Homo sapiens: one gene and its partners. The protein of the gene in region 6 purifies or fractionates together with the protein of the main gene of each other region. This does not show direct contact. Each region holds a gene or a part of one and is shown on either strand. Other genes may lie near its edges.

Region 1 (2,918 bases), on a different chromosome or scaffold from region 6:
AGTAGACTTTGGGAAAAGCGATTTTTTTTCATGTATTCATTCTGAATAGTTGAAATGTATATTTGTACAGTCTTTTAGACCTATTCAAGTGATGCTCATGATCCTGTTACTGTGTGCCCATCATAGATTTCTTTTTTTAGTGTTGCCCTTGCTGTGTAATAAACGCTCTATCTAGTTTACCTAGCAAAAGCTCAAAACTGCGCTAGTATGGACTTTTTGGACAGACTTAGTTTTTGCACATAACCTTGTACAATCTTGCAACAGAGGCCAGCCACGTAAGATATATATCTGGACTCTCTTGTATTATAGGATTTTTCTTGTTCTGAATATCCTTGACATTACAGCTGTCAAAAACAAAAACTGGTATTTCAGATCTGTTTTCTGAAATCTTTTAAGCTAAAATCACATGCAAGAATTGACTTTGCAGCTACTAATTTTGACACCTTTTAGATCTGTATAAAAGTGTGTTGTGTTGAAGCAGCAAACCAATGAGTGCTGCATTTTGGATATTTAGTTTTATCTTTAGTTCAACACCATCATGGTGGATTCATTTATACCATCTAATATATGACACACTGTTGTAGTATGTATAATTTTGTGATCTTTATTTTCCCTTTGTATTCATTTTAAGCATCTAAATAAATTGCTGTATTGTGCTTAATGTAAATATTTGCTTTATTACACATGACAGTCCTGTGTGTCCATTATATCTTTTGCCATTTAATGCCATAACTCTTTCATCAGAGATGGCAGCCACAGTCACAGAGGAAACTTGTGGAAAACCCAAGATCTGTCATCTGCAAATAGAATGCTTTCTCTTGAGGCACCTGGTACAAAATCTGTTTTTCTTTTTTTTTTTTTTTTTTTTTTTTTTTTTTAACTGAAAAACAAACACCCTTGAGTTTTTCAGTTCACCTTTTGTTAAGGAGCAGAGCCTGCATATATATGTAAATGTCTCAATGATAAAAAAAAAAATGTAAACATGGATTGGCATTAATTTGCAAGCAGAATCTTAATAGCCTGATGGGTTTTTTGTTTGTTTTTTCTTCTAGATGAAGTTAAACGTTCGTTTTCACCTTACGATGGGAACAACTGTAGTGCAGGCGGCTCTGCCTCTATTTGCCACTCTTGGCCCTCTTGCTATTAAGGGAAAGGCTTTGAAGAGCACAGCACTGACAGGGCTGTAAAGATGGAAGGAGCTGGTATTTTTACCATGCGTAGATTCCCAAGAGAACTTGTACTAAAAAGCAGAAAGTTACAAGGAAGCAGAATTAGGCCAACATTTCCAGCAATTAAAACAATGATGGGAAACTCCAATCCATGAGGAGGCTGGTCAGTCACCTCAAGGATAGTGGCCTAAAGAAGTCTGAAGTGGCTGATGTCCATAACTTCTGAGTCTGTTTCCAAAAGAAAGACTCTTGTTAATGCTGTTACCAGAGAGTAGAGATTTGACCAGCCTCTCCCTAAAATGTAAGCTTCTCAACAACAGTACAGGAAGAAGTGCAAGAGTAGACTAGAACCTTTAAGGAATTTGGGGCTGGAACGGAGCTATGTTGCATCTGTTGTTATACAGGTAGATTATAAGTTCTACATGCACCAGCCAAAACTTAGGACAGGATGTCCCCAAATTAAGATACTACAGATTACCAAATCAGAAATAACCAGCTGGATTTAGGCCAGCTCACATTTATTTGGAAATTACCCTCCCTGATTAACAGGCTTCTGAGTTGTACGTGGAGGACTAATGAGACTTGTACAAGACACCACGGGGCTTGGGGTCCAGGTCCCAGTTGGATATCGGAACAGACACAGATAAGTGTGTTTCCTCATTAAGGTGGTGAGAGTGTGCCTTTTGGCATTCAGAAAAGGGTTTAGCCACCCTAAGAGTTGGAAATAAAGATTCCCAACTGGAAATGTTGCAGAATCCCTACAAGTGTCTCAATAAAAGCCATTTTAAAAGAATATTGTTGCTACTGTTTGCTTTTCAAATAATCTGGAGATCGTTGGCTATGGCAACGTGCTGCCACCTAATTAGAGAATGCCTGTAAATGTAGGCTGAACACTTCTAACATGAGAAAACCTAAGTATCCTACAGAGGTTTGGTGTGTTTTGTTTTTGTGGGTGTCGGGGGAAGGGGGTGGGGAGGCGTGTTTTTGGCCCTGCAGGTTTTCTCGTGGGAATGAGTTCACTCAGACAAGCTAGGACTGTGGCTTCTTTCCCTGTTCATCACATAGAGCATTTTCTCATCCTATCTTTGGTTCCTTGTCATTGTATAGGGAGAGGAGAATCTTTATCAAACAGCTTCATTCCCTCTTGCAATTCAAGCAGAAAGGGTATCTATGCCTCATATCGCTCTAGAGTTGTATGTCAGTTTGATCCCAATGCCTACTCCTTTGTAACATCCATTTCTGGCATGAACAAAATGAGTGCCAAATTTGAAAACTGCGATGTATTAAAGATGGGAGTTTCCCATCTGAGATGCTTCACGCTAGAAACAAACCTGCTTATTGCCAAATAAGTACTACCATACAGAAGTGTAGTTCCTTTACTACTTAGACCTCAGACTACTAGTACTGAGTCCTCGAGATGAGACTCAAGAATTATCACTAGGTGGTTCGTTTTTTTGTTTGTTTGTTTTTGAGATGGAGTCTTGCTCTGCTGCCCAGGCTGGAGTGCAGTGGCGCCATCTCAGCTCACTGCAACCTCCGCCTCCTGGGTTCAAGCCATTCTCCTGCCTCACCTTCCCAAGTACTGCCGGGACTACAGGCACGTGCCCCCATGCCTGGATAATTTTTTTTTTTTTTTTTTTTGTATTTTTAGTAGAGACAGGGTTTCACCGTGTTAGCCGGAATGGTCTCCATCTCCTGACCTTGTGATCGACCCGCCTCAGCCTTTCAAAGTGCCGGGATTACAGGCGT
Region 2 (3,908 bases), on a different chromosome or scaffold from region 6:
GAACCACCACTCCCGGCCCCCCAACCCCCCCCTTTTTTTTTTAAATCACATACTAAATGTGTCATTTAGAACATATGCTTCAAGAGGTCAGGGTTTATGCTTCCTTTACTGCTATACTGCTGACCTGGAACAACATCCAGCACACAGTAGTAATCAATGTGTTTTTGAATGAATGAGTGGACACCTTACCCAGGATAATAATTCATGCTTATTGATAAAGGCAGACAAACCAGGGTTATAAGTTAGAACCCAGAGGAAGCCTAGGGGTGGGAGGATTCAGGGTATCACAACTGTATCTGAGAATGAGGAGGTTGTAGGAGGAGGCCTTTCGGATAGCACCCCCTAGTTCTGCCCCTCATATCTGCTTCCTTGGTCTCTCCTGATTACTTGCTGTTTCTTTTCTTTTTTTGGAGCATCTCACAGATACGTTTATTCATACCACAAAGTAAACACTATTCAGGTATGTAGTGATGTTCCACGTTCCTGTCTAATATAGCTGGCTTCAATTTATAGGCAGTACACATTGAGACATTTAATCTCACATGTACTCCAAGTAAAGCTGGAGTACCATGAGCAGGCGCAGGAGTTCTCAAAGCTTTACTTGTTTTAAAAATTTTCATTTATTGGCCAAGCGTGGTGGCTCATGCGTGTAATCCCAGCACTTTGGGAGGCTGAGGCGAGTGGATCACGAGGTCAGGAGATCGAGACCATCCTGGCTAACACACGGTGAAACCCTGTCTCTACTAAAAATACAAAAAAATTAGCTGGACATGGTGGTGGGTGCCTGTAATCCCAGCTACTCAGGAGGCTGAGGCAGGAGAATGACATGAACCTTGGAGGCGGAGCTTGCAGTGAGCCCAGATGGCGCCACTGTGCTCCAGCCTGGGCGACTGAGCGAGACTCCGTCTCAAAAAAAAAAAATTCTTTCATTTATTTAGTTACTTTTAGAGATAGAGCCTCCCGCTGTTGCCCAGGCTGGAGTGCAGTGGCAGTCATAGCTTACTGCAGCTTTGAACTCCTGGGCTCAAATGATCCTCCTGCCTCAGCCTCTCCAGTAGCTGGGACTGACTACAGGCACGTGCCACCACACCCAGCTAATTTTTATTTTTATTTTTATTTTTTTGAGACAGGGTTTTACTCTGTCACCCAGGCTAGAGTGCAGTGGTGAGATCATGGCTCACTGTAGCCTCTGTCTCCGGGGCTCAATCAATCCTCCCACCTCAGCCTCCCCAGTGGCTGGGATTACTGGTGCACACCACCATACCCTGCTAATTGTATTTATTTTTAGTAGAGATGGGATTTTGCCATGTTGCCCAGACTGGTCTTGAGCTGCTGGGCTCAAGCGATCTTCCCATCACAGCTTCCCAATGTGCTGGGATTACAGGTGTGAGCCACTGTACCTGGCCAGCTTTACTTCTTTTACCAGCACTCCTGATTTTATAAATAGTGAGGCTTATCAACCCCATTTCTACCCAAATCTTCTGGTAGACTTGAGTATAGTAGGGCTTCATAGGTAGCAGCCCTGTCCCTGTCCTATTATGATGGTAGCTGTTGTGATGTGGCGATCTCTGATCTAGAAACCCCTGAGGGGCCATTGTGGCCTGCCCAGTCTCCCGGCCACGGTTGAAACCAGACGTGCAGTGGGGCTGACCCCTGTGCCCCACCCCAGAGTCATGCCAGCGTGGGTGGTGGGGCATTCTCTGGGATGAATGATCTGGATCCCATAGCCATCTGTGTCCTGTTTGAGGAATGGGACCCTCAAACAGAGAACAGCCAAGATGCTCAAGCAGGTGTGTGCTTGGGCCAGACTCTGCAGCCTTTGGTTTGGGACTTGACTGCCATTCACTGAAGGGGCCCAGGAAATGGGCAGCTCACATGGTGTTGCTGGGTGTCCAGCTGCGGCAGTTTAGCAGAGGAGGACTTGTAATGAGATGGTAGCTTCTTATAGGCTAAGACATGATTTTTCTGTTCTTTTACTACCTCCTGCACCTTCTAGAACTGTTCCTTCTCTGATGCTGTTTTCCTTTCTTCCAGTGATTTATCTCTAGGGTCTCCATAGCAGGGGAGGTAGGGTCAGACTCCTGAGATGGCTGATGTCCTACCCTGCCCCCAACCAGGGGCCCCAGGAGACTCCTTTTTCTTACTGCAACTTTGGCCTCCTCAGTCTGCAGATCTCCAGGGGAGCCCACCAGCCTAGTCAACATGGCCTCGGAAGACATTGCCAAGCTGGCAGAGACACTTGCCAAGACTCAGGTGGCCGGGGGACAGCTGAGTTTCAAAGGCAAGAGCCTCAAACTCAACACTGCAGAAGATGGTGAGTTTCTGGAAGTTGTGCACTGGTGTGTCCAGGGGAGGAGAGGGAGTGTACTGAACTCTTACTGGTTGTCAGGCTCTTTCTGCTACATTGTCTCCATTATTTGTCCCAGCAGCTCTGTGAGGTATCATTGGGCCTATTCTAACAATGAGGCTCAGAGATCATTTGCCCAGGAGCAAGCTCCCCTGCACTTTCCATGTTTGTATTGGGCATCCCTTTGTGCCCTGCCCTTTCTTTCTCAGGAGGGGATGATAGGTAATGAGGGGCCACAGTTAGTGCCAGTCCCAAGATACAGCCTCTGACTCTGACTTAATATCCGGTGTTGTCCCCACCCTTGCCCTTAACCCCCATGATCCCAGGCAGGCCTGGGAATAGCTGCAGCTTTCCCCAGAGCTGAGGCTCTGGTGGAGCTGCATTAAAACAACCTGGGCCCTCTTGGGAGATGCTGGTTCATGCAACCAGATGTACCTGGGAGAGGGATGGCTGTCTGTGTGTATACAGGTATTGCAACCACAGAAAACTAGGAACCAGAGAGCAGACCCTGTCTTTTCATCCCTTGTCAAGGCTTGGCTGCCACTGACCAACCCTGAATCACCTGGCACCTGCAAGTGAAGGCACCTGCATCAAGTGAGGCCTCCTGGGATTCTGGCCCAACCAGGGGAACTGGTCTGGACATGCCTGGTTGTCATGTTGTGTAGGCAGCCTTGTTCTCCTCTCCAGGTCGGAGGCTGCTTGAGTCCTTGGGTAGCTGGGAGCGTGCTGATGCATGTTCCTAACATCTCCATAAGGTCTAACGTTTATAGACTTCCTCCCTGTGCATTTATCACTTTTTTTTTTTGAGATGGAGTCTCTGTCACCCAGGCTAGAGTGCAGTGGCACGATCTCAGCTCACTGCAAACCTCTGCCTCACGGGTTCGAGCAGTTCTCCTGCCTCAGCCTCCTGAGTAGCTGGGATTACAGGCGCCCACCACCACACCCGGCTAATTTTTGTATTTTTAGTAGAGATAGGGTTTTGCCATATTGGTCAGGATGCTCTCGAACTCCTCATCTCAGGTGATCTGCCCACCTTGGCCTCCCAAAGTGTTCGGATTACAGGCGTGAGCCACTGTGCCCGGCTTTTTTTTTTTTTTTTGAGATGAGTCTCACTCTGCCACCCAGGCTGGAGTGTAGTGGTGCGATGTTGGCTCATTGCAACTTCTGTCTCCCAGGTTCAAGCGATTCTCCTGCCTCAGCCTCCCAAATAGCTGGGACTGCAGGCTCACACCATCACGCCTGGCTAATTTTTTTTTTTGAGACATAGTCTTGCTCTGTTGCCCAGGCTGGAGTGTGGTGGTGCAATCTCAGCTCACTTTAACCTCTGCCTGGGTTCAGGCAATTCTCATGCCTCAGCCTCCTGGGTAGCTGGGACTACAGGTGTGTACAACCATGCCCAGCTAATTTTCTTTTCTTTTTGTTTTTTTTTTGAGATGGAGTCGTGCTCTGTCACCCAGGCTGGAGTGCAGTGGTGCAATCTCGGCTCACTGTAAGCTCTGCCTCCCTGGTTCACGCCATTCTCCTGCCTCAGCCTCCTGAGTAGCTAGGACTATAAGCACCC
Region 3 (3,908 bases), on a different chromosome or scaffold from region 6:
ATTACAGGCATGTGCCACCATGCCTGGCTAATTTTTGTTTTTTGTTTTAGTAGAGACGGGGTTTCACCATATTGGCCAGGCTGGTCTTGAACTCCTGACCTCGTGATCTGCCCGTCTCGGCCTCCCAAAATGCTGGGATTACAGGCATAGGCCACCGCGCCTGGCTGCCACTTAAATTTTTATTACTTTCATGGGACTCAAGTCACTCCACTTATTTAATCGCTTTAATACAGGGATGCTCTTTGAAGGCAGGGACTTTTCCTACTTATTTTTGCTGCAATGCTTTTCACAGTGTTTTATGAAGTAGAAGTTTAACAAATACTTGTTTAATTGAACCAAATGTTGATGCTAACTGTAATAGTACAATATAGTGATTATGATTATGTATTTACTGGAAAAAGTTCCTCTTCTTTAGGAATGAAGAAAAATATATTGGCACTATTAAAATAACAATACTGACAGACAGACAAACCCTAAATGAGTACATAAGATCTGACCCTGAAGATCATGGTGTAATTACACCATTCAGTATTCATTAGGTAAATAATTCCTATGTAAATTCCACCAAAATTTCAGCACTAAGAAAACTGGAAAGAAAGAAAAATCTCACCTGATCCTCTTTTGCTCTGTCAGGTCACCCTCACTAACCAACATCGCTGATAATAACCGAAGGGTTGAATTGGCAGATTTAGACTGGTTGTTTTTCATACCCAACAGCCACCTTACCAGAAGTTTAATTGCCTGTACCTATAAAATATTAACATGCTAAAAAAAGAAAGCAACTTAAAATTCCAATTAAAGGGAAAATTAATTTAATTAGATTAATGAGATTACTCATCTCCATCAGCAGACATTTTATTAAATAAGTCTATGGGATAATAACAGCAACAATACGAACTAATATTTACTCTGTGCTTAACCAGTGCCAGGCACTTTTCTTAGATCTGTAAATGTATTAACTTATTTAATCTCCCAAAAAATTCTTATGAGGAAGATTTTTTTTTTTCCAACAGATAAGGCAATTGAGACACATTATTATCATAGATAACTTGCTTAAAAGTCTGGTTCCAGAATTTAGGCTTCTCATACTTAGATGTTTGTGCAAGATTTTGAAACTATTTGAAAACATATACTTTAAAAACAACAATTTAAACTATACAGGCCGGGGGTGGTGACTCACGCCTGTAATCCCAGCACTTTGGGAGGCCAAGGCAGGTGGATCACTTGAGGTCAGGCGTTTGAGACCAGCCTAGCCAACATGGTGAAACCGTGTCTATACTAAAAAACCCCGTCTCTACTAAAAAAAAAAAAAAAAAAAAATTAGTCAGGCATGGTGGCACACGCCTGTAGTCCCAGCTACTCAGGAGGCTGAGGCATGAGAATTGCTTGAACCCGGGAGGCAGAGGTTGCAGTGAGCTGAGATTGTGCCACTGCACTCCAGCCTGGGTGACAGAGCAAAACTCTGTTTCATAAAAAAACCAAAACACACACACACACACACACACACACACACACACACACACACCCCACAACTGTACTGATTGTGGTGACTGAAAATAACTTGAGAGTTTCAGTTTTGTGGTATTGAAAAACTACTTTGAAGAAACCATCAAGTCTGATTCAGTCTCATTTAACATTGTGACCAAAAAAATGGGATTTTGTGTAATTATTGGTAGTCATAATTACTTAGAAATGTCTAGTCAAAAGATTGTTACCAATATATGTGAAAAAGCTAGCCAAAAAATCAAAGTATTATTTATTATATTTATTGACAACCTGGAAAAATGAACTGATAGAATATATGATGACTACAAAGCAACACAAAGTGAAAGATTATCAAAGAAGATGATACAATCTTATTTTAAATCCCAAATCTGCCACTTTTCAACTGAGCTTTACATCTATTAAATGTCACAAATTTAGTAACAATCATCTCTATCTGCTCTGTCACCCAGGCTGGAGTGTACTGGCATGATCACAACTCACTGTAGCCTTGACCTCCTGGGCTCAAGCGATCCTCCTGCCTCAGCTTTCTGAGTAGGTGGAACTATAGGTATGCACCACCACACCCGGCCAAATTATCATTATTATTATTTGAGACCGAGTTTCACTCTGTTGCCCAAGCTGGAGGGCGGTGGCGGGACCTTGGCTCACTGCAACCTCTACCTCCCAGGTTCAAGTGACTGTCCTGCCTCAGCCTCCGAAGTAGCTGGGATTACAGATGTGCAACACCATGCCTAGCTAGTTTTTGTATTTTTAGTAGACAAGGGGTTTCACCATGTTGTCCAGACTGGTCTTGAACTCCTGACCCCAAGTGATCTGCCTGCCTCAGCCTCCCAAAGTGCTGGGATTATAGGCGTGAGCCACCATGCCTAGCCCAACTAAATTATTTTTAATATTTTGTAGAGACATGGCTCACTATGCTGCCCAGGTTGGTCTTGAACTCTTGGGCTCAAGCGATCCTCCTGCTCTGCCTCCCAAAGTGCTGGGATAATAGGTGTGAAAAACAAATCAAAGTATTATTTATTATATTTATTGACAACCAGGAAAAATGAATTGATAGAATATATGATGATGATGAAGCAACACAAAGTGAAACAGATTATCAAAGAAGATGATACAATCTTATTTTAAATCCCAAATCTGCCACAGTGCCCAGCTTGACAATTACCTATCTTTGCCAAGTTAATATTCATATGCTTGTAGATAGTGGTGATGAGGCTGGATTTAAGATGCCTCTGAGCACCGTCATTCTATAAACAGTCTCTCTATAAAACAGCCTCATTAAGATTGCTTTAGCAGGCAGAAGACACTGACATGTAATAAACAATGACAACCACAATGTCTTCAATAAACCATTTTTTGCAATGGATTTTAAAATAAAGTACCTCCTTAACAAATGCTTATTAACTATTAGGTTTAATTAAAAAAGGCTCCCAGCTAGGCACGATGGCTTAAGCTCATAATCCCAGCACTTTGGGAGGCTGAAGTGGGAGGATCAGCTGAGCCCAGGAGTTCAAGACCAAACTGAGCAACACAGCAAGATCCCATCTCTGTTTATTAAATTTTTTAAAGGTGAGGAAGATAACTACAAAATGTCCCTTTTTTAAACATGAAGATTATCAAGGCCTAAACAAATTTACCTTTGCTAGTACTTCAGGGGAAACCTCTTCATCTGGAGACCACAGTTTTCCATTCTTTTCACCTGTTGACTATAGACAATTGAATAAATTTAGCTATTAGCATGAAAAAAAAAATTTATGTTTTTGCTGATTAAGTTTTTCATGTTGATCAACACAGCCTCTGAGAAACCTACGGGAACATCACCAACCAGAGCTTGGAAAAGGACAAAGTTAGAAGACTCATACTTCCCAATTTTGAAACTTACTATAAAACCTACAGTAATCAAGACAGTGTGGCTGGTACTGGCAAGGATAGACATATAGACTAATGGAATAGAGAACTCAGAAAACCCTTGCATATATGGTAATTCATTTTTGACAAAGGATGCCAAGACCATCTTTAGTGAAAGAACAGTCTCTTCAACAAATGGTGCTAGAAAAACTGGATATTCAGCCGGGTGCAGAGGGTCAAGCCTGTAATCCCAGCACTATGGGGGGATGAGGCAGGTGGATCACTTGAGGTCAGGAGTTTGAGACCAGCCTGGCTAACATGGCAAAACCCTGCCTCTTCTAAAAACACAAAAAAATTAGTTGGGCATGGTGGTGCATGCCTGTAGTCTCAGCTACTCGGGAGGCTGAGGCTGGAGAACTGCTTGAACCTAGGAGGCAGAGGTTGCAGTGAGCTGACATTGCGCCACCTCACTCCAGGCTGGGCTACAGAGTGAGACTCCATCTCAAAAACACAAAAGCAAAACAAAAAAACTCCTGGATATCCACAAGAAGCAA
Region 4 (4,665 bases), on a different chromosome or scaffold from region 6:
TTCTTTTAAAGTACCGAAAGCTGATTGCTTCTGTAAAGGTAAAACTCCTGTGACATGTTAGAAAGAAAAAAAAAATTCCTTTGAGAGATATGTTTGTAAGAATGAAATAGGTACTACTAGAATTTTCATGTTATTCTCTGCAAGGCACTCAACACCACATGAAAAGAAGATTATTAACAGTCAGTAGAAATACTAATAACTGAAGAAAATATTTGGTTGTTTTAAATGCTTTTAAAGCAAACCAACAACAAAAGATTCTGTTTGTAAATGGGAGAGAATCTGCATGAGGTATAGACAACCAGGGCCTCCAAATTTGTAGCTGTGTTTCTGACATTCTCCAGGGAAGACGGTTACAGAAAGACTTGACCCCCTGGCCCCGCAGAGCTCTTCAGAGAAATTAATGCATCCAGAAAAGACAGAGCATCAGATCTCACTCCTTCGTCTGGAAGACGTCAGTTCATCCTAGTTCTAGCGCATACCGGTGTTTTGGAAACAGATTAGCTATATTCATACATAAGGATACTCTTCCGCAACACTATCTGTAGTGAGGCCAAGACCAGTGGTTGCGGGAATCTTCGCAAACAGGCAAGAGACAATTTTTAGGGGCGATGGAAACTGTCATTTTGACTGGGGAGGTCATTACACCTATACATGCATTTGCTAAAAGTCATCAAACTCTTCCACTGACGTGGGTGTAACCATTGTTTGTAAATTATACCTCAACAGGATTCGATTAATTTATTTATTGAGACAGTCTCGCTCTGTGGAGTGCAGTGGTGCAATCTTGGCCCACTGCAACCTCCGACTCCCGGGTTCCAGCGATTCTTCTGTCTCAGCTTTCCTAGTAGCTGGGATTACAGGCGCCCGCCACCACGTCCGGCTAATTCTTTTATTTTTAGTAGAGACGGGGTTTCGCTATGTTGGCCAGGCTGGTCCCGAACTCCTGACCTCAGGTGATCAGCTCGCCTGAGCTTCCCAAAGTGCTCGGATTACAGGCCGCGCCTGACTATGATTCGTTTTGAAAGAAAAAAATATATGCCATTTACCCCTCGGGAATGGAAACATAGAGGAGTGACAAGATCTCCCCCAAGCTCTGGGGCGGTGGAGTCCAGCATTTATAGATCGGTTTGCACTAGGAGCAGAAGCTCCTTTCACGACAATCTCGGCCTCTTCCCACTTTGTAGAGTGAGTAACAAGCTCGGAGAGATGAAATAATTTGGTGGCGTTAACCCGGCCGACAGGCGCCAGCGCCAGGATTTGAACCCAAACCACGTGACTTCACAACCCATAGCTTTCAACACTACGCGGTGCTGCTGGCACCTAGTAAAGGCTGGATCACTACTGAATGAATGATTCTGGCTACGGATCCTTAAAGCCCACAGAAGGCCCATCCAGAGACCGAAAGCTTCAGACACAAGCCGCAGAGCAGACCGCTAAACCGGAGCTACAGAGGCGAAGCTCAGACTTGAGCCTGAGTCCGGCGGGCTGAGGGGCGGGCTTTCGTCTCGGGAGGCGGAGCTGTCTCGTCGCATTCCCGGCAAGCTTGAACCTCTTCACTTGCCGTAGCGCCTGCAGCAGGAAGTTGCTCTACAGCATGCCTTAGGTTTCCGGGTGAGGGTTGGGCTCCTTGGTACCATGTGGGAAGCGCTGTGAAGAGTTGTTGCCTTCCAAGATATACCCAAATTCCCAGTTCCAGGTAAGCGGCACAGAGCCGCTTGATGTGGCTGCGGATGGGGGCGGCATATCGAGGGAGGGTAAGAGTTTTCCGGATATCTGCGGAATCAGGGTTGAAGGAAAGCCTTGGCGCGGTCGCCGCTACTGTAATTAGTTGTTAACGCTGCTGCCATCGTCTTTGCATCTCCGGGGTCCACAAATCTCAGGACACCCGCGTTGTGTGTCCATGACGGTGCTGAGTGCAGAAGAGAATTGTTTGTTTACGAGGCGCCTTATAATTTCGTAGAAACTTATCAAAGTGCTTACGTTTTTTTAGCCCGTGTCATTAAAACTCCGCTGGCGTGAAAGATGACGTCCTTAGCCCAGCAGCTGCAACGACTCGCCCTCCCTCAAAGTGATGCCAGCCTCTTATCTAGAGATGAAGTTGCTTCTTTGTTATTTGACCCTAAGGAAGCGGCCACAATCGACAGGGACACCGCCTTCGCCATTGGTGAGCCATCTTTTAACTTAGAAAAGCTCTTGGAAGCGTTTGTTTTCTGGATGTTACTGTTTTTTTTTTTTCCCCTTGTTTTCTCTTCTGTCCCGTCCTCTTCCTTAGCAGTTTCTAGCATGTTGATGTATATTTTTAAGGGAAAGAGAACATAACAGTCAGGTGCTTGGTGCTTGAAATGTTTATGAGTAGAGGTATCTGGATTTCACAGATGAAGAAACAAAATTAGAGAGGTCAACTAATATGTCAAAGAGAAGAACAGCTAAAAGGGGGATGGAGGCAGTGACTGGGGTGACGGAGAAGTCCTCTCAGAGGACTGGCCTAGTTATTGTAGGGGATATCCAAAAAAAAAAAAAAAAAAGTGTTCCCTGCCACGAAGTACTTTCTGTTCTAGTAGATGAGATAGGATTTACTCTAAAAGTTGAAAACTAGAAATCAGTGTTTGGGACTGTATTATAAATTATATGTACTTAAAGAATTCAGAAACTTCTTAGGGGTAAGTAAAACTGTAAAAGAGGGGTGGGATGAATTTGCTTACGAAGAATTGTTAAATAAACTGGCCTTTTTTGAAATTTAGGATGTACTGGCCTGGAAGAGTTGCTTGGAATTGATCCTTCCTTTGAGCAGTTTGAAGCACCGTTGTTCAGTCAGCTAGCAAAAACCTTGGAGCGAAGTGTTCAGACCAAAGCAGTAAACAAACAGTTGGATGAAAACATTTCATTATTCCTTATTCACTTGTCGCCTTACTTCCTGCTTAAGCCAGCACAGAAGTGTCTGGAGTGGTTGATTCACAGGTAGCTAATAGAATTACAGAAATAACTATGGGTTAATCACTTTGGTCTTGTAAAAAATTAAGTAGTTGAGAACTTATCAAATTAAAGCTGAAAAATTAGGTATATTAAGAGATTGATACAATGTCCATTGTGTGAGATAAGCATGCTCTTCTGCCTTTAAATTCTTTTTTGTTGATAGTGAAAAGTAGAACTACTGGTGATTTTGAGTAAATGGTCTAACCTCATTAGTTTTTTTTTGAGATAGAGTCTTGCTGGGCACTCAGGCTGGAGTGCAATATTGAAATCTTGGCTCACTGCAACCTCTGCCTCCCAGGTTCAAGTGATTCTCCCACCTCAGCCTCCCAAGTAGCTGGGATTACAGGCACCTGCCATAATGCCTGGATGAGTTTTGTGTTTTTGTAGAGATGGAGTTTCACCGTGTTAGCCAGGCTGGTCTTTAACCCCTGACCTCAGGTGATCCACCCGCCTCGGCCTCCCAAAATACTGGGATTACAGGTGTGAGCCACCTCGCCCAGCCTAACCTCGTTAGTTCTGAAGAGCCCATGCTACTTTGCCATTACAGCTTGTTCCTGCACACTTGAGGCAGTGAGTACTAAGCTGCTTTCTTGGCAAAATAACAAGATGGTTGGGGAAGCAGGCAATGTTATCCTCTGAAATACCATTGCTTGAGAAAAACAATGATAGCTAATGTGTTTTTGAGCATTTATACACTAGGCCCTGGTAAGCACTTTATCTGCATTATCTCATTTAATTCTCACAGCATTCCTCTGGTGAGATTATTTGTATTATCCTTGTTTTACAGTTGAGAAAACTGAGGCTTAGAGGGATTAAGTTTCTTGAGTCACACAGCTAGTAAGTGGCAGAGCTAGGATACAGCTGAAGTTTATTTCCAAGGTCTGATCTTTTATCTGCTTTGGGAATTGTCTCAGTAAGCTTAGTTTATTTTCTCACATATTGGTGTCACATCACAGCATACACATTTTTGTTTTATTTATTCTCCCAATATGTATGTCTTTTTTTTTTGAGACAGTCTCGCACTGTCGCCCAGGCTGGAGTGCAGTGGCACGATCTCATCTCACTGCAACCTCCACCTCCCAGGTTCAAGCAATTCTCCTGCCTCAGCCTCCCAAGTAGCTGGGATTACAGGCACATACCACTACGCCCAGTTAATTTTTTGTATTTTTTTTTTTTTAGTAAAGATGGGGTTTCATCACGTTGGCCAGGCTGGTCTCAAACTCCTGACCTCGTGATCCACTCGTCTTAGCCTCCCAAAGTGCTGGTGTGAGCCACCACAGCCACTGCACACGGCTGTCTTTTTATTTTTATTTTATTGAGTGTCAGGATTTCACTCACCCAGGCTGGAGTGCAGTGGTGTGATCGTGGCCCACTCGATCTCCAGGGCTCAAATGATCCTCCGATCTCAGCCACCCAAGTAGCTGGGATTACAGGCATGCACCACCATGCCCACCTAGTTTTTTTTTTGTTTGTTTGTTTTTGTTTTTGTTTTTCCATTTTTTGTAGAGACAGTGTCTCACTTTGTTGCCCAGGCTGGTCTGGAACTCCTGGCCTCAAGCGATCCTCCTGCCGAGTCGGCCTCCCAAAGTGCTGGGGTTACAGGCATGAGCCACCACATCCAGTCCAACTTACATGTTTTAAAAGTAGATTTCTATTCCATTAATTGGAGACATGGCTTCAAGGCCAGCCTGG
Region 5 (3,908 bases), about 86 Mb from region 6:
CGACTAAAAAAAGTATGAAAACCAAATCTACTAACACTGGTAGTTTCTTTATTACCAAATCTCATATACTCTTGTAATGTATCTACAAAGAAAGAGTAAAACAAATATATTTTCCCTTCCGACCAAAAGTTGGGGAGAACATTAGCTAGATAAATTCCTTTTAATTTACAAACATATGATCGTCTGTAAAGATAAGGAATTTTTATTGGTTTTTGAAAATATGTAATATAAACTATAGTTGGTTTAATTGTACAAATAAGAGAGACAAAATAGGCTCATCAAAACAGGTCCTTCCACTATTCTCAACAATAAAAAAAAATTTAAAAACGAAATACACAGAGATGCATGCATGAACAAACATACGCATATATACCAAGAACAAGAGCAGCAGTTGGAATTTCTCTGAGTTTTATTTGACCGCCCAAGTCTCTTGAATTCTTCTGGAATCCAGAATGTGATTTTTGCAGAAATTCAATCAGATTGTCAAACAAGTTTTTATTTAATTCCTCTTGTAGTCGCTACAAAGAACACACAAAAACTTATTATTATTAGAAATAATAATCTGATGTCTTTCCTGGTTGTGGAAAGAAAATTGTCATGGATTCAATGATGTAAAATGATCAAAAGATGAACCTAATTAAAAAATGTTTTTTCCTTAAATCTCTAGTAATTAGTGCTCTGGGTTCCCCCATTAAAAATTCCCTCTCAAGCCTGGTCGGCATAGTGAGACCTCATCTTTTTAGATAAAAGACAAATTAGCTGGGTGTAGTGGTGCACATCTGTGGTCCCAGCTTCTAGGGAAGCTGAGGTGAGAGGGTCACTTGAGTCTGGGAGGTCAAGGCTGCAGTAAGCTATGATCATGCCACTACACGCCAGCCTGGGTGACAGAGCAAGACCTTGTCTCAAAAAAAAAAATTGTATATATATATGTATATATATATATATATTATATATGTGTATATATATATAAACGTGTATATATATATATAATATATAATATATATATGATATATGACATTAAAGGGTTTGGATTTTGTCCTATGGGGAGCACCACTGAAGGGATGTGAAGTAAAGACATAATTGGATCAGGGTTAAGAAGGGTTAATCTGGCAACAGGGCTGGAGGGGTTGCCTGGAATTGGGCTGCATTTGCCTTGAAAAGGGTCTTTTCTAATTTGGCCAATGGTGTCAGGGATGCCAGTCAGGAGGATATAACAATCCAGATTCAGAAATGAAGACGGCCTAAACTGGAAACCACAAATTCAAATACCTTGAAGGATCACATGGAATACGTGAATGAGCCTTTGCTCATTACCACTAGGTGTAAATCAGTAAGGACTGGTAGGCGGCAGTAATAAACTGGAAAGTATATAACCTTCCGAAAGGCAATTAAACCAAAAACTACAACACTGTGTTGGCCAAAAAAAAAAAAAAAGTTGTCAGCCTAAAATGCTGGCCCTAGAGCTACCAATTTGCTATAGTGAAGAAATGTTTCAGAGCTGGAATATAAAGATGAGAAAGTGAAGGAGTTTAGAAACAGCTTGATTTCACAGTTGTATACCTGAAAGGATAATTTAAGAGCGTCACCATTTGAAAGCTCCTTGCCTTAACAGCTATCATAAACATCTGTTCCACTCACAAGAAATATGAGTTTTTTTTGTTTTTGTTTTTGAGACAAGATCTCTCTCTGCTGCCCAGGCTGGAGTGCCGTGGTACTATCTCGGCTCACTGCAACCTCCACCTCCCAGGCTCAAGTTATCCTCCCAACTTAGCCTCCTGAGTAGCTGGAATTACAAGTGCACACCACCATGCCCAGCTAGTTTTTGTAGCTTTTGTAGAGACAGGGTTTCACCAAGTTGCCCAGGCTGGATTATGGTTGTTTTTTTAAGGATATACAGGCTATGCTTGACCAATACTTCCTATATTTCATCAATACTCTTGTAAACTGGTGGAAAGGAAGATGAGATGCAACAAAAATGAGACTTAGGGTGTTACAGAAAATTATTAAAAAAAGTATTCACCTCATTTTCAGATTTCATCTGCTGCCATATCAACTGATAAGTTTCGAATCGAAGCTTACTGTCCTCAGGCTCATTTTTCCCTTTGTTAAAATAGTCCTCTAAAAACAGAAAGAAATAAGTCAGTTTCTTTTTTCATATAATAGTATAAGTTATAGATCTTACGTGCAAAGTTACACAGTAAGTGACAGAAGTGAAATTTTTTTTTTTTTTGATATGGAGTCTCACTCTGTCACCCAGGCTGGAGTGCAGTGGCATGATGTTGGCTCAGTGCGATCTCCGCCTCCCAGGTTCAAGTGATTCTCTCCTGCCTCAGCCTCCCGAGTGGCTGTGACTACAGGCACGTGCCACCACGCCCGCTCAATTTTGTATTTTTAGTAGAGATGGGGTTTCACCATGTTGGCCAGGCTGGTCTCAAACTCCTGACCTCAAGTGATCTGCCCACCTTGGCCTCCCAAAGTACTGGGATTACAAGTGTGAGCCACCTTGCCTGGCCTTAATTTTTTTTACATTCATCAAAAACATATATTTGGGGACAGGTAACATTCAATATCCTCTGTATTTCATTTTTTATAATCTTTTATTTTTACCATATTTATGGCATATTTAAGATTAAAAATGTCAATCTTTCTACTGTATTTCTATCATTTGCTTTTTAATTTCTAACAGTTTTTATTAAGTGGCTTTTTTGAGTTATATACATTTAATAATGTTTTCATTATTTGCTGTTATTCTACAACCTTGTATACTTTGTTTCATACATTTGCTTTGAACTCTCCTCTATTGAATGACTTACTACTACTATTCTTACATTTTTCCACTGACATAGTTTAGTCCAGTCTTTCATTTATTCTGTCTGTATATTTTTGTATCCTTTTTGAATGCTTTCTCCAAATGGTTAGCTATTTGTGAAAATACCATTTATTGCACTGGCTTTCAAACTTTTCAAACTATAATCCACATTAAGGAATACACTTTATATCATAACCTAACACATATACACATGAACAAAAACTAAAGTCACAAAAAACAACACTCACCCTTATTATGTAATAGCAAATGTTTTCTTTCCTGTTTTATACTCATAGTCCACTAAATTGATTTCATAACTCACACATAAATTATGACATTTGGTTTGAAAAACCCTCCTTTATTGTACAATCCATCCTTCTCCCGCTGATTTGACATGCCCTTATAGTCTAAATACTTATATATACTTTGAACTATGTTTGAACTTTTTATTTTGTTCTACTGAATCCAACCCTATTCTCCTACCAGTCTTGAACTGTTTTAATTATTATGGCTTTGTATGTTGTACATTTTATCAAATACATTTAGGTCTTCCTCCCACTGCCCCCAAACATTGTTATTCTCTTTCAAAAAAATTTAAGCCACTTCTTCAAATTAATTTTACAGTAATCCTGTCACTTCTCAAAACTAGTTGTACTGGTATTTGACTAGATAAAATCAAATCCATAGACTGATTTGGGGAAAAATCCCATCTTTAATATGTTAAAAAATCCCCAACCCCAATATCACAGGTCTCTTTTTTTAATCAAATATTTTAGATTCCTTATAGTTTTCTACTTTCCCTCATATTTCTTGTTGTTTACTGCTACGTATTTTATTGTAACAACTGGAGTGTTCACGTTAAATTTCTGCTGCTAATAATCTACCACCAAGTTTTAATGTTAACTGATAGTTTGGAATATAAATTCACTTCATGTTAAGGAACTTCTCTCCTAATCATAGTTAACTCAGAGTTTTTAGCAACTATTGATTTTTAATTTTATCAAAAGCCTTGGAATACATTGAAGTCATCGTACGGTAAAGTGGCAGACAAGGTTATAGAATTAAAATGCCAACAAAAAAAGAAAGCAAGGAGACACTA
Region 6 (4,523 bases):
AACTTTTAAAAAGCCCATGAATGGAAGTCCTATCTGGAAATCTGTCTAGCAATGCATCTCATACGGAAATCTGCAAGCCCATTCTATAATACCTTTATCGAATTATTCAGGAAAATATTTTTATCTCCAGAGGAAGTTTCTTGAGACCAAAACCTGAGCCCATTTTTTTGGGAGGGGGGACAGACATAAAAATCTCTCCACTTCCAACCCATCATCACAATGTGTTAAGTCAGTTGTTTTATTAAAAAATAAGCACTATGCTTGGGTTTCATAAAATTTATACATGAATATGTACACAGACACAAATAAAATAATATTAAAAATAAAAATCACACTTGCTTTCAAGGCAGTGGTCCTGGCACCCCACATACATAATCAACTTTTCCTTTAAAGAAATTGCTTGGCCCAAGGAGACCACAGTTAGAGAACCACTAATAAAGCTGTAGCCCGTTGCCTGCAACATTTTCAATTCGGGTTTCAAAAATATATAAATAATTTAATTACAAAACCCAACATTTTTTTTCTCTTTTGGCACAGTGAAGCATCGGTCAATAGCAAGAAATCACTGAAGAGCCTCTGACATGTCTCTCACACTCAGTCATACCTGGAAATGCCACATACGTACACGGATGGGGGCCCAGAAACCCCAAACAGTAGTCATATCATTTATAGTGTGGAAAGGTTCCCTGATGTACTTAGGGGGGAGGGAAGGGACATAAATCAATGGAAGTTGCGACAAAAACAGTAGAAATAAGACGAAGCCTGGGCGTTAAAGAAAGACAAAAAAAGTCCTTATGAAGGGAAGGAGGAGCAGGCTTCGCAAAGAAACTAAAACAAGAATTGCTTTGGTCCTCTGTAAAGTTATAAAACACAAAGGAAAATATCCTGGACTAAGTTTAAATACTCCTGTCAAAATGCTTTAGCTTTAAGGCACGTTTGATGGAGATTTTAAAAATTCATCTTCCTCTGGATTCAAAGTGCAAAGTCCGCGCGCGGGCCCGCGTTCCCGCCTCCCCGACGGCGCGCACTCGGCGTTCCCGGGCCCCGCGGCGCTACTCAGGCTAGGAGCGTCTCCACCGGGTACGGCAGGTGCGGGCCAGGGCGGCGGACTGAGGCCGCCTGCAGGGCTGCGGGCAGCCGCAGGGGGCAGTACAGGTGCGCGCCGCCGGCCGCCGGGCCTCGGAGTGGCTTGGCGGGGGCCGCCGCCGGGAGAGGTGCAAGCAGGAGGGGCGGCGCGGTCGGTGGCACCTCGGCCTCGCGCGCGCCCAGCCGCGCCGGCTCGCCCGCGCCGTACGCGCAGAGCGGCAGCAGGGCCCTGCAGGGCGCCGCGGGGAGGAGCGCGGGGAACGCGGGCAGCGGCGGGCAGGGCGCGGCGCCCCACTGAAGCGTCGTCCCGGGGGCCGTGTCCCTGAGGCGGCGGCTGCGGAAGGGCTTGCGCAGGATGCTGTCGATGGCGAAGGAGCTGGAGAACTTGCCCGCGGGGCTGGCGCGCTCCTCCTGGCGGGCGGGCGAGCGCATGCGGGGCGAGGCCGGGGCGGCGGGCGCGGGCGGCGGGGCGGCGGGGAGGCCCGGGGCCTCCTCGGGCCGCAGCCCGGGCGCGGGGACCGGCGCGCGGTGGCTGAGGCGCTTGCGGCGGCGGCGGAAGACCCCGTCGGCGAAGGTGTACTCGCTGTTGGGGTTGAGCATCCAGTAGTTGTCCTTGCCCCAGGGCCGCGAGGGGTCGCGCAGCACCTTGACGAAGCAGTCGTTGAGCGAAAGGTTGTGGCGCACGGAGTTGCGCCAGCCCGTGTAGCTGCCGCGGAAAAAGGGGAACTTGCCCATGAGGTACTCGTTGATCTCCGCCAGCGTCAAGCGCCCGCCCGCCGAGTCGCGGATGGCCATGGCGATGAGCGCGATGTACGAGTAGGGGGGCTTGGGCCGCCGCGTATATGGCTTGCTGCGTGCACCCTCGCCGCTCCCCGCGCCGCCCGCGCCTGGCCCCGCCGCCCCGGCCTCCGCGCCCTCCGCCACCACCGCTGCAGCAGCTGCTGCCGGGATCGCCTCCTCCGCGCCCGGCCCGCCTCCCGCACTCTGTTCGCCGTCGCCCTGCGTATCTCTGGCGCCGCCGCCCGCGGCCGGGCTGTTGGCCGCGCAGTCCCCATCTGAGCCCAGGGAGTCGTCTCCCGCCGCCGACAGCGGGGACGGCGCGTCGCTGCCGCCCGCGCCCTCCAGGTCACTGCCCTGCTTGTCCCCGTGGGCCGCGCGAGGGACGAACACCTCCAACTTCATGCCCGCGCACCCAGTCCCTCCCCGGCGTCGTACCCTCTTCCTTCGCGCAGCCTAGAGAAGCTGGTGCCAGGGAAGGGGATGGCGATCCGGGGCCGGGGATCTTCGCCTTTTTCTCCCGGGAGCTCTACCCTGGTCTTCCGAGATAGTCACTTTTCCGGAGTCCTCTTCCGCTGGGCTTTTTCTCTGGAGGGGCTGCAAGTGTTGGGTGGACTATGGGGCGGAGAGGGAGGAGTTGGGTGGGTGTCGCCTTCGGTTCGACGTTGAGACTTTGGGGTGAGTGTGTGCAGGGGCCGCGGTTCCACCCTCGGGTGCCCGAGCACGCCGGGCTTAGAAGGCTTTCCTGCCGGAGAGAAGCAGCATGCGCATCTGCTGCTCGTTAAAGAGCCCAGGAGGGGTTCTTCACTGGCGGTCCCAGGTCCCGCGCGGGCGTCTTCGGGGCACGGAAATGGTGCCGGATGATGTGCGTGCCACCGTGGGGGAAGGTCCGGCGCCTTCAGCCTTGAGCACCCGCGGAGGCGAGTCCCCGAGGCCGCTGCGCCCGCAGCCGCCTTCCCGCTCCCAGCCTCCGGGGCAGCATCTCCCCGCTGGCCTGCCGCGGCTGCGTCTCGCCTCCACCTTCGGGCCGGCCCAATATAACCCTGCGGCGGCTCCGCGGGGGCGGGGCCTGAGCGCGGACGGCAAGGGGTGGGGGAACGAGGTGGCCGAGGTGGTGGCGGCTCCCCAGTTCCCCAGCTCCCCAACGGGCGCGCACCAGGCGGAGGCCACACTGCAGCGCGGCGGCAAAGTCGCTGGCGCAGGTTGTTTGTTTTGGGTCGGCCGGCCCCGCCTTCCTCCTCCCGCCAATGGGGAGCGCGCGCGCCGCTGTGGGTTTGCGCGTGTCTGTGAGTGTGCGTGTGTGCGCGCGCGGGGCCGCTCCGCCAGCCGGCTCCTCCGTTCAGGTGTGGGCCCCAGCCCCGGGCAGCCCGCGAGGGCTCCCTGCGCCCTGGAGTTCGGGGACGCAGTTTAGGCGAGTGCGCCTGGTTGGGGGGACACGCCACAGTTCCCCTAGGGGGACACCTGAAGGGACTGGGTCTAGGGGAGCAGGGACTTTGCTCGGGCCTAAGCTGCACGCGGCGTATGTGCTTCTGTAGTAGTGAAAACGATGCTGCTTACGAAAGCAAACCCCTGTCGTCACTGCAGAGGTGCTGAACAGAAATTGCGCAGGACACTTGCAGTGACCTCTTTCGGGAGCCTTGTGCTGTGCCCCTTCCTATGAGCTCCTTTCAAGGACCATCTTGTCTTTTCCTCTTGTTTTAATGAATGCACTCCTGGGCTTGAAATTGTATGCGCCTTTTTGGATGACCTTTACTCTTGCTCACTAAATGGGCTCCGACTTTCACTTTTCTTTGTCTTACTTTACCTTTTTCTTTACCTGGCTGGTGACTCCTGCGGGAGGACAGCAGCGTCCTCCTCTTCCCCTGGGGCGGCTGTGTCTGGCGCAGGGTGCTGGGCTGTGCCTGCACTTGTGTCCCTGCGGAAGCCTCAGATGCCGCCGAGCTCCGCCGCTTGGTTCCCGGGATCTGACAGTCAACAGGAACGACGGAGAGGGCGTGTTCCCGGGGGCGGGGGCAAGAACAAACCGGTTCACGGCCATTTCTTTCCAATATTCCTTTGGGACTTTTGCTGTGACCTCACTGGCACCAGTGTCGGACAATCTCGAAAGGGGGGACCGTTCCTCACCCCAGGGCGCCCGGGGCGTGATCCCCACGCGGCGTCATTAGTCCAGGGAGCGGGCGCCTCGGCCCCGGGAAGGTGCACTTCCAGCCCGCTGCCCTGCCACGCCGAGTTTCCTCCTTTTTCCTGCCTTTGTTGCACAAAAAGCGACGGAGCCGCTAGTAGGTGGGAGCTCACCTTTGATGTTTATTTTATTACTTTCCACCATTTGTGTTGAAAACGTACACAATCCTCTCTTATCTTTATTCAGGGAGTTTTGAAGCCATTCACAATGGGGCGGGCAACATGACAGCCCCAGCCACAGCTCTGTTATTTTTGTATTTGGGGAAGGATCGCGTTCGGAGATTAGACTGACTTTATTAAGTATGCGCCTCGGGAGCCAGGTGGGGAATGGCTGCTTTTTGGGAGATGAGCCTTTCTGGAGGGGTCTGCTCAGCTCTAGCCTTGGAGTTGATGGTTCACTAGACCTGGAGAGGGAAGTGGGATGAGACAAATATGTATATCTATATATATATAGCGAGGTAAAGAGGCTTGGATTTGGC
Region 7 (4,414 bases), on a different chromosome or scaffold from region 6:
TGGCACAATATTGGCTCACTGCAACCTCTGCCTCCTGGGTTCAAGTGATTCTCCTGCCTCAGCCTCCCCAGTAGCTGGGACCACAGGCGCCCGCCACCACTCCCGGCTAATTTTTTTGTATTTTTAGTAGAGACGGGGTTTCACCATGTTGGCCAGGATGGTCTTGATCTCTTGACCTCATGATCCACCCGCCTCGGCCTCCCAAAGTGCTGGGATTACAGGCATGAGCCATCGCGCCTGGCCGTGTACTGCAAATATTTTTTATCCATTTGTTCTACTTTGTTGATGGCATCTCTTCTCGTACAGATGTTTATATTTCTTTCAATATTTTCTTTTATGATCTTTTGACTTTGATTCATGAGTATAAACATTTTCCCTCCTCCAATTATAGAGCTTCTCCCCATATCTTCTTCTGGTCTTTTACAGTATTGCGATTTGTCTGTTTTCAATCTATTTTTTTTTTTTTTTTGAGACGGAGCCTCTCCGTGTCGCCCAGGCTCAAGTGCAGTGGCGCGATCTCTGCTCACTGCAAGCTCCGCCTCCCAGGTTCAGGCCATTCTCCTGCCTCAGCCTCCCGAGTAGCTGGGACTACAGGTGCCCGCCACCACGCCCGGCTAATTTTTTTGTATTTTTAGTAGAGACAGGGTTTCACCATGTTAGCCAGGATGGTCTCGATCTCCTGACCTCATGATCCGCCCGCCTCAGCCTCCCAAAGTCCAGGGATTACAGGCGTGAGCCACCGCGCCCGGCCTTCAATCTATTTTGAGTTTAGTTTGAGACAGTAAGACTAAAAGCACTTAACATACATTATTCCACTTAATCCTCCAGGCCATTCTGTTAAGTGGGGGTTATTTTCTTCTTCATTGTACAAATGTGGAAATGGAGGCAGGTCGATTTAAATAAGGCCGCAGAGCTAGAAAGCTGCAGAGAAGGGGTTTGAACCCTGCACCTCTGGGGCCAGGGCAGTGCGGGTGGCCGTCCGCGAACCCTGCTAGCTGTGGTGCTCGGGGGCAAGCTTCCGAGGGCGCGGCGGGCGCGAGGAGCGCGTCCGAGACTCGGTGGAGCGTCACCGGCGCAACCCCGCGTGCCCAGCTCCAGGCCGTGTTCTCCCAGGTGCGGGCCGGCGGGACCCCGCCTTCGGCCCTGGCGGCGCGCGCTCGCCTAGCGGGCGGGCACTCGCGCGCAGCGTTTGTGTTGCCTGCGAGTTTCCCGAGTTCACACAGGCCCTGGGTTGGCATGGCAACCAGGCAACCTGTTCCAGAGCCGCCAGCCTTCTCCGCACATGCCGCTGCCACCGCCGGGGCCGGGGCCGGAGCCTATCCCAGGATGCACCGCGCCAACCCAGTCCCCAGTGGGCCGCCATGTTGTCGGAGTGAAAGGTAAGGGGGAGCGAGAGCGCCAGAGAGAGAAGATCGGGGGGCTGAAATCCATCTTCATCCTACCGCTCCGCCCGTGAGTATCCGCACCCCACCGGCCCCAAACGCTGCTCCGGACCCCTAACGAGCAGATTGTCCCTTCATATTGGTGTTTGAGAGTGGTTGTGGGGGTGAGAAGGGCTTTGGAAAAGCCGCCGGGGCCCTGGCTGAGGCTTCTCACTCGCTGTTCCTCGTACATGTTTTGGAGTCAGCAGCAAGGCCCCTATTGTTATCAAAGGAGGGAGGGGGTGGGGAGCGGGGTCGAAGCTAGGAAAATGCTGGGGGTTTAGGCCCGAGCCCAGGGCGTAGACGTGCCTCTACATTTTTGCCTGGCCCTGTTGGGAACCACCGAAGATTGATGTTGCCATTCGGGTTGCTTTTTTTGATGGGTTTGCGAAGCCCCGAGTCTTCTGTGTGGCCATGAAGTGTAATTCTGTGCCACCCCGATTTCTTCGACTTCTTGAGCTTCCGTGGCAGCGCCGGAGGAGGAGGAACAATAAATCGCTTTAGAAGCAGCCGTGGCCCTTGTCCACAGGCGAGATTCACCGTGGGGGAACTTTGCGAGCCTTAAATGTGGAGAAGTGGCGATCAGGAAGTTTCAGAATGCTTTTTAGGCTCCTGGGTTGCTGTGGCCTTTTGTTTCCGTGTGAGCTTGTGTTTTTGGTGGGTTCTTCCTTTTTGAGCCTCCCGGTGTTGGTGTCTCTCTTCACTCAAAGAGGGGTTCACCCCTTGCTAGTAGGAAAATCTAGATACACAATACTAGTTTTAGTCCTCACAAACATGCTTGGTAAACATAGATCATTTGTTTTACTTGTCAGTACCATTCCCACGTCAAGTGAGGAATACACTCCTGTAACTTTTCCCTCCTATAGCCCCCCCCCCCCCCCCCGCTGAAAAAACAAAGCCAGAAACCCACACACAGCATTACCAGAGAAGGCTTTATTCTCCCGTAACTTAGATTGTTACCTTTTATTGTTCAATTAAGAAAACACTGTTCTCAGCCCTCGATACCATTTTGCTCAATTCCTGTTATTACTGGGATTAATTAAGAATAAGATTTTATGAAGCTTTTCCTGGGTTCTGTTTTAAAGTCAGTTAACTTCTGAAACAATAGGCTTAGCATTTTGTTTCTTGAAAGCACCTAAAAACTTACTAAGACAGGCCCAACCCCAAGAAATGTGGCTTCCGATGCAGTTTTCGTAAGCAAAATAAACATTTTGACCCTTTGCTAATTTTAACTTTATAAAACACTGGGGGGCTGTTGATTCTTTATCTGGGCTCTTGGGAAACGCTCTCCGGATTCTGAACTTTGAGTTAGTGTTTTGCTTTAGCGACAATTGAATTCATTTTGTTCAAGGCCACAGCTTTTTGAAGTTGGAATTTGTTTAGTTTAGGTTTAAAATGAACTGTTTTAAGATAAATTTATGACCACAGAATGTTTGTTAAGTGTGGTAAAAATAAACACCTTTTAAACCACTAAGCATTTTAGTAAAAGGTGAGCCATGGAAATAAAGTAAACCGTGTTCCTTTGAATTCAACTCAATTAGTGATATTTTAAAAAACTTTGTAAACATTTGAAAGCTGTGAAAGAGTAGCTGGACTGAGCACTTCTAGTTGCTTAAAGTACTTATAAGGTGTCATTTGTAAAAAAATCACATTTTAAATGCTACACGTATTAGTGAGCTTTTCTGATATTTAGGATACTGAGTTTTTAATTTTTGTGCCGTATTTGCCAAAATACCACAAAACTACCCAAGATAACATGTTAATTGCTTAGGTATTTGCTCACTTTGAAACTGTTCTGCCAGGTTTTCTCTGGTTTGAGAAACTGCCTTGCCTCTTTAGGTAAAGCAGGAAGTCTTAGGGCATACAGATAGCTTTACAAAAGCCAATTGTTTCGTTTGAACATTTTTATAGGAGTCTTTTCTTTCCCCCATTCCTTTTAGAATGAAGGTGTGTTTAGTGTGCGTCAGTGATAAACTCCTCTTTTATGTGGATATTCTTTGTTAGATAACTTTTTTCTTTTAAAAATTTTTATTTGTATAATTTGTGAGGTACAAGTGTAATTTGTACATGCGTGTATTGCGTAGTGGTGAAGCCAGGGCTTTTTGTGTGTCCATCACTGGAATAACGTACATTGTCCTCCTTAGGTAATCTCTCATTATCCTTCTCTCAGCCTCCTAGATAACTATTTTGAGAAGGCTTTTATTTCAGAAAAGATTGCATTTGCTGTTTTAGGAATTCTGTTAGGGACTGGAGTTGCCTTAACTAGGGGTAACTAAATTCTAAGAGTCTTAAGCACGATGACTTTAAATTTACCAAAAACTTTTATATTTATCTCATTTTCATTAAGAAAAACCCAAAACATTGAGAGTCATAGAGGAAGGATTTCTTTCATTTTCTAGATGAGGAAACAGGTAGTTTTGTTTAGTGAAAGAACTTGGGTTTTGGAACTCTTGGCCTGCTCTAGAACAAAGATTGTTAGGTCGAGATTTCCTTTTAGAACAGAATGGGACTGTCTAGTATTAGTACTAAGAGAGTAATGAATTCTTTAAAAAACCAAGCAGGGAGGCATTAGGCTGGTTTGCACTTTTGAAAGACCGATGGTGAAACCGGGCTATGACTTTTTGGTTTTGGTACTTGAGCAGGGACTAGTGTCTAGGTTAGACTACTCCAGTACCCTGCTAAGGTTCTGATGGATTGGAATTCTTAACCTAGACTAGGCATTTCCAAATTAGGCTTTAAACAAATTACAAATTCCATTGTGTCTTCTTAGGCTGGCTTCAAAAACATGAATTTAGTTGTGAGAAGCAAATGCTACTTTATCAGAAGGTTTATTTATTCAACAGAGAGATAGTAGATTTGTTATTCATGTGTTTTTGAAGCATCACAGTGGGGGTTGGGAGAAGAGATAAAGCATTTGTAGCAGTAGACTGTTAGGCCGATGGCTTTGAAATTAGACCGTGGCTGTGGACAGGTGTGTCCTAATTGGTAACTGA

Evidence for each region.
Region 1: the proteins of FOXQ1 (region 6) and ADNP purify together in Homo sapiens (affinity purification with mass spectrometry; one large-scale study listed by BioGRID and IntAct). This does not show direct contact.
Region 2: the proteins of FOXQ1 (region 6) and RANGAP1 purify together in Homo sapiens (affinity purification with mass spectrometry; one large-scale study listed by BioGRID and IntAct). This does not show direct contact.
Region 3: the proteins of FOXQ1 (region 6) and PDS5A purify together in Homo sapiens (affinity purification with mass spectrometry; one large-scale study listed by BioGRID and IntAct). This does not show direct contact.
Region 4: the proteins of FOXQ1 (region 6) and HEATR1 purify together in Homo sapiens (affinity purification with mass spectrometry; one large-scale study listed by BioGRID and IntAct). This does not show direct contact.
Region 5: the proteins of FOXQ1 (region 6) and ORC3 purify together in Homo sapiens (affinity purification with mass spectrometry; one large-scale study listed by BioGRID and IntAct). This does not show direct contact.
Region 7: the proteins of FOXQ1 (region 6) and PUM1 purify together in Homo sapiens (affinity purification with mass spectrometry; one large-scale study listed by BioGRID and IntAct). This does not show direct contact.

What each region holds. Positions count from the first base shown.
Region 1 is NC_000020.11:50,888,092-50,891,009, reverse strand, and holds the end of ADNP (activity-dependent neuroprotector homeobox protein), read left to right. Parts: 3' UTR 1-2,092; downstream 2,093-2,918.
Region 2 is NC_000022.11:41,279,339-41,283,246, reverse strand, and holds part of RANGAP1 (ran GTPase-activating protein 1), read left to right. Parts: exon of another isoform or gene 1-460; intron 461-1,603; exon of another isoform or gene 1,604-1,705; coding exon of another isoform or gene 1,706-1,790; intron 1,791-2,034; exon of another isoform or gene 2,035-2,164; coding exon of another isoform or gene 2,165-2,202; coding exon 2,203-2,314; intron 2,315-3,908. UniProt on the Homo sapiens protein: GTPase activator for RAN. Converts cytoplasmic GTP-bound RAN to GDP-bound RAN, which is essential for RAN-mediated nuclear import and export. Mediates dissociation of cargo from nuclear export complexes containing XPO1, RAN and RANBP2 after nuclear export.
Region 3 is NC_000004.12:39,866,251-39,870,158, forward strand, and holds part of PDS5A (sister chromatid cohesion protein PDS5 homolog A), read right to left. Parts: intron 3,213-3,908; coding exon 3,144-3,212; intron 748-3,143; coding exon 611-747; intron 1-610. UniProt on the Homo sapiens protein: Probable regulator of sister chromatid cohesion in mitosis which may stabilize cohesin complex association with chromatin. May couple sister chromatid cohesion during mitosis to DNA replication.
Region 4 is NC_000001.11:236,601,453-236,606,117, reverse strand, and holds the start of HEATR1 (HEAT repeat-containing protein 1), read left to right. Parts: upstream 1-1,601; 5' UTR 1,602-1,696; intron 1,697-1,990; 5' UTR 1,991-2,022; coding exon 2,023-2,164; intron 2,165-2,741; coding exon 2,742-2,958; intron 2,959-4,665. UniProt on the Homo sapiens protein: Ribosome biogenesis factor; required for recruitment of Myc to nucleoli. Involved in nucleolar processing of pre-18S ribosomal RNA. Required for optimal pre-ribosomal RNA transcription by RNA polymerase I.
Region 5 is NC_000006.12:87,599,994-87,603,901, reverse strand, and holds part of ORC3 (origin recognition complex subunit 3), read right to left. Parts: intron 2,119-3,908; coding exon 2,021-2,118; intron 519-2,020; coding exon 374-518; intron 1-373. UniProt on the Homo sapiens protein: Component of the origin recognition complex (ORC) that binds origins of replication. DNA-binding is ATP-dependent. The specific DNA sequences that define origins of replication have not been identified yet.
Region 6 is NC_000006.12:1,310,450-1,314,972, reverse strand, and holds FOXQ1 (forkhead box protein Q1), read right to left. Parts: upstream 2,876-4,523; 5' UTR 2,269-2,875; coding exon 1,057-2,268; 3' UTR 215-1,056; downstream 1-214. UniProt on the Homo sapiens protein: Plays a role in hair follicle differentiation.
Region 7 is NC_000001.11:31,062,654-31,067,067, reverse strand, and holds the start of PUM1 (pumilio homolog 1), read left to right. Parts: upstream 1-1,350; 5' UTR 1,351-1,452; intron 1,453-4,414. UniProt on the Homo sapiens protein: Sequence-specific RNA-binding protein that acts as a post-transcriptional repressor by binding the 3'-UTR of mRNA targets.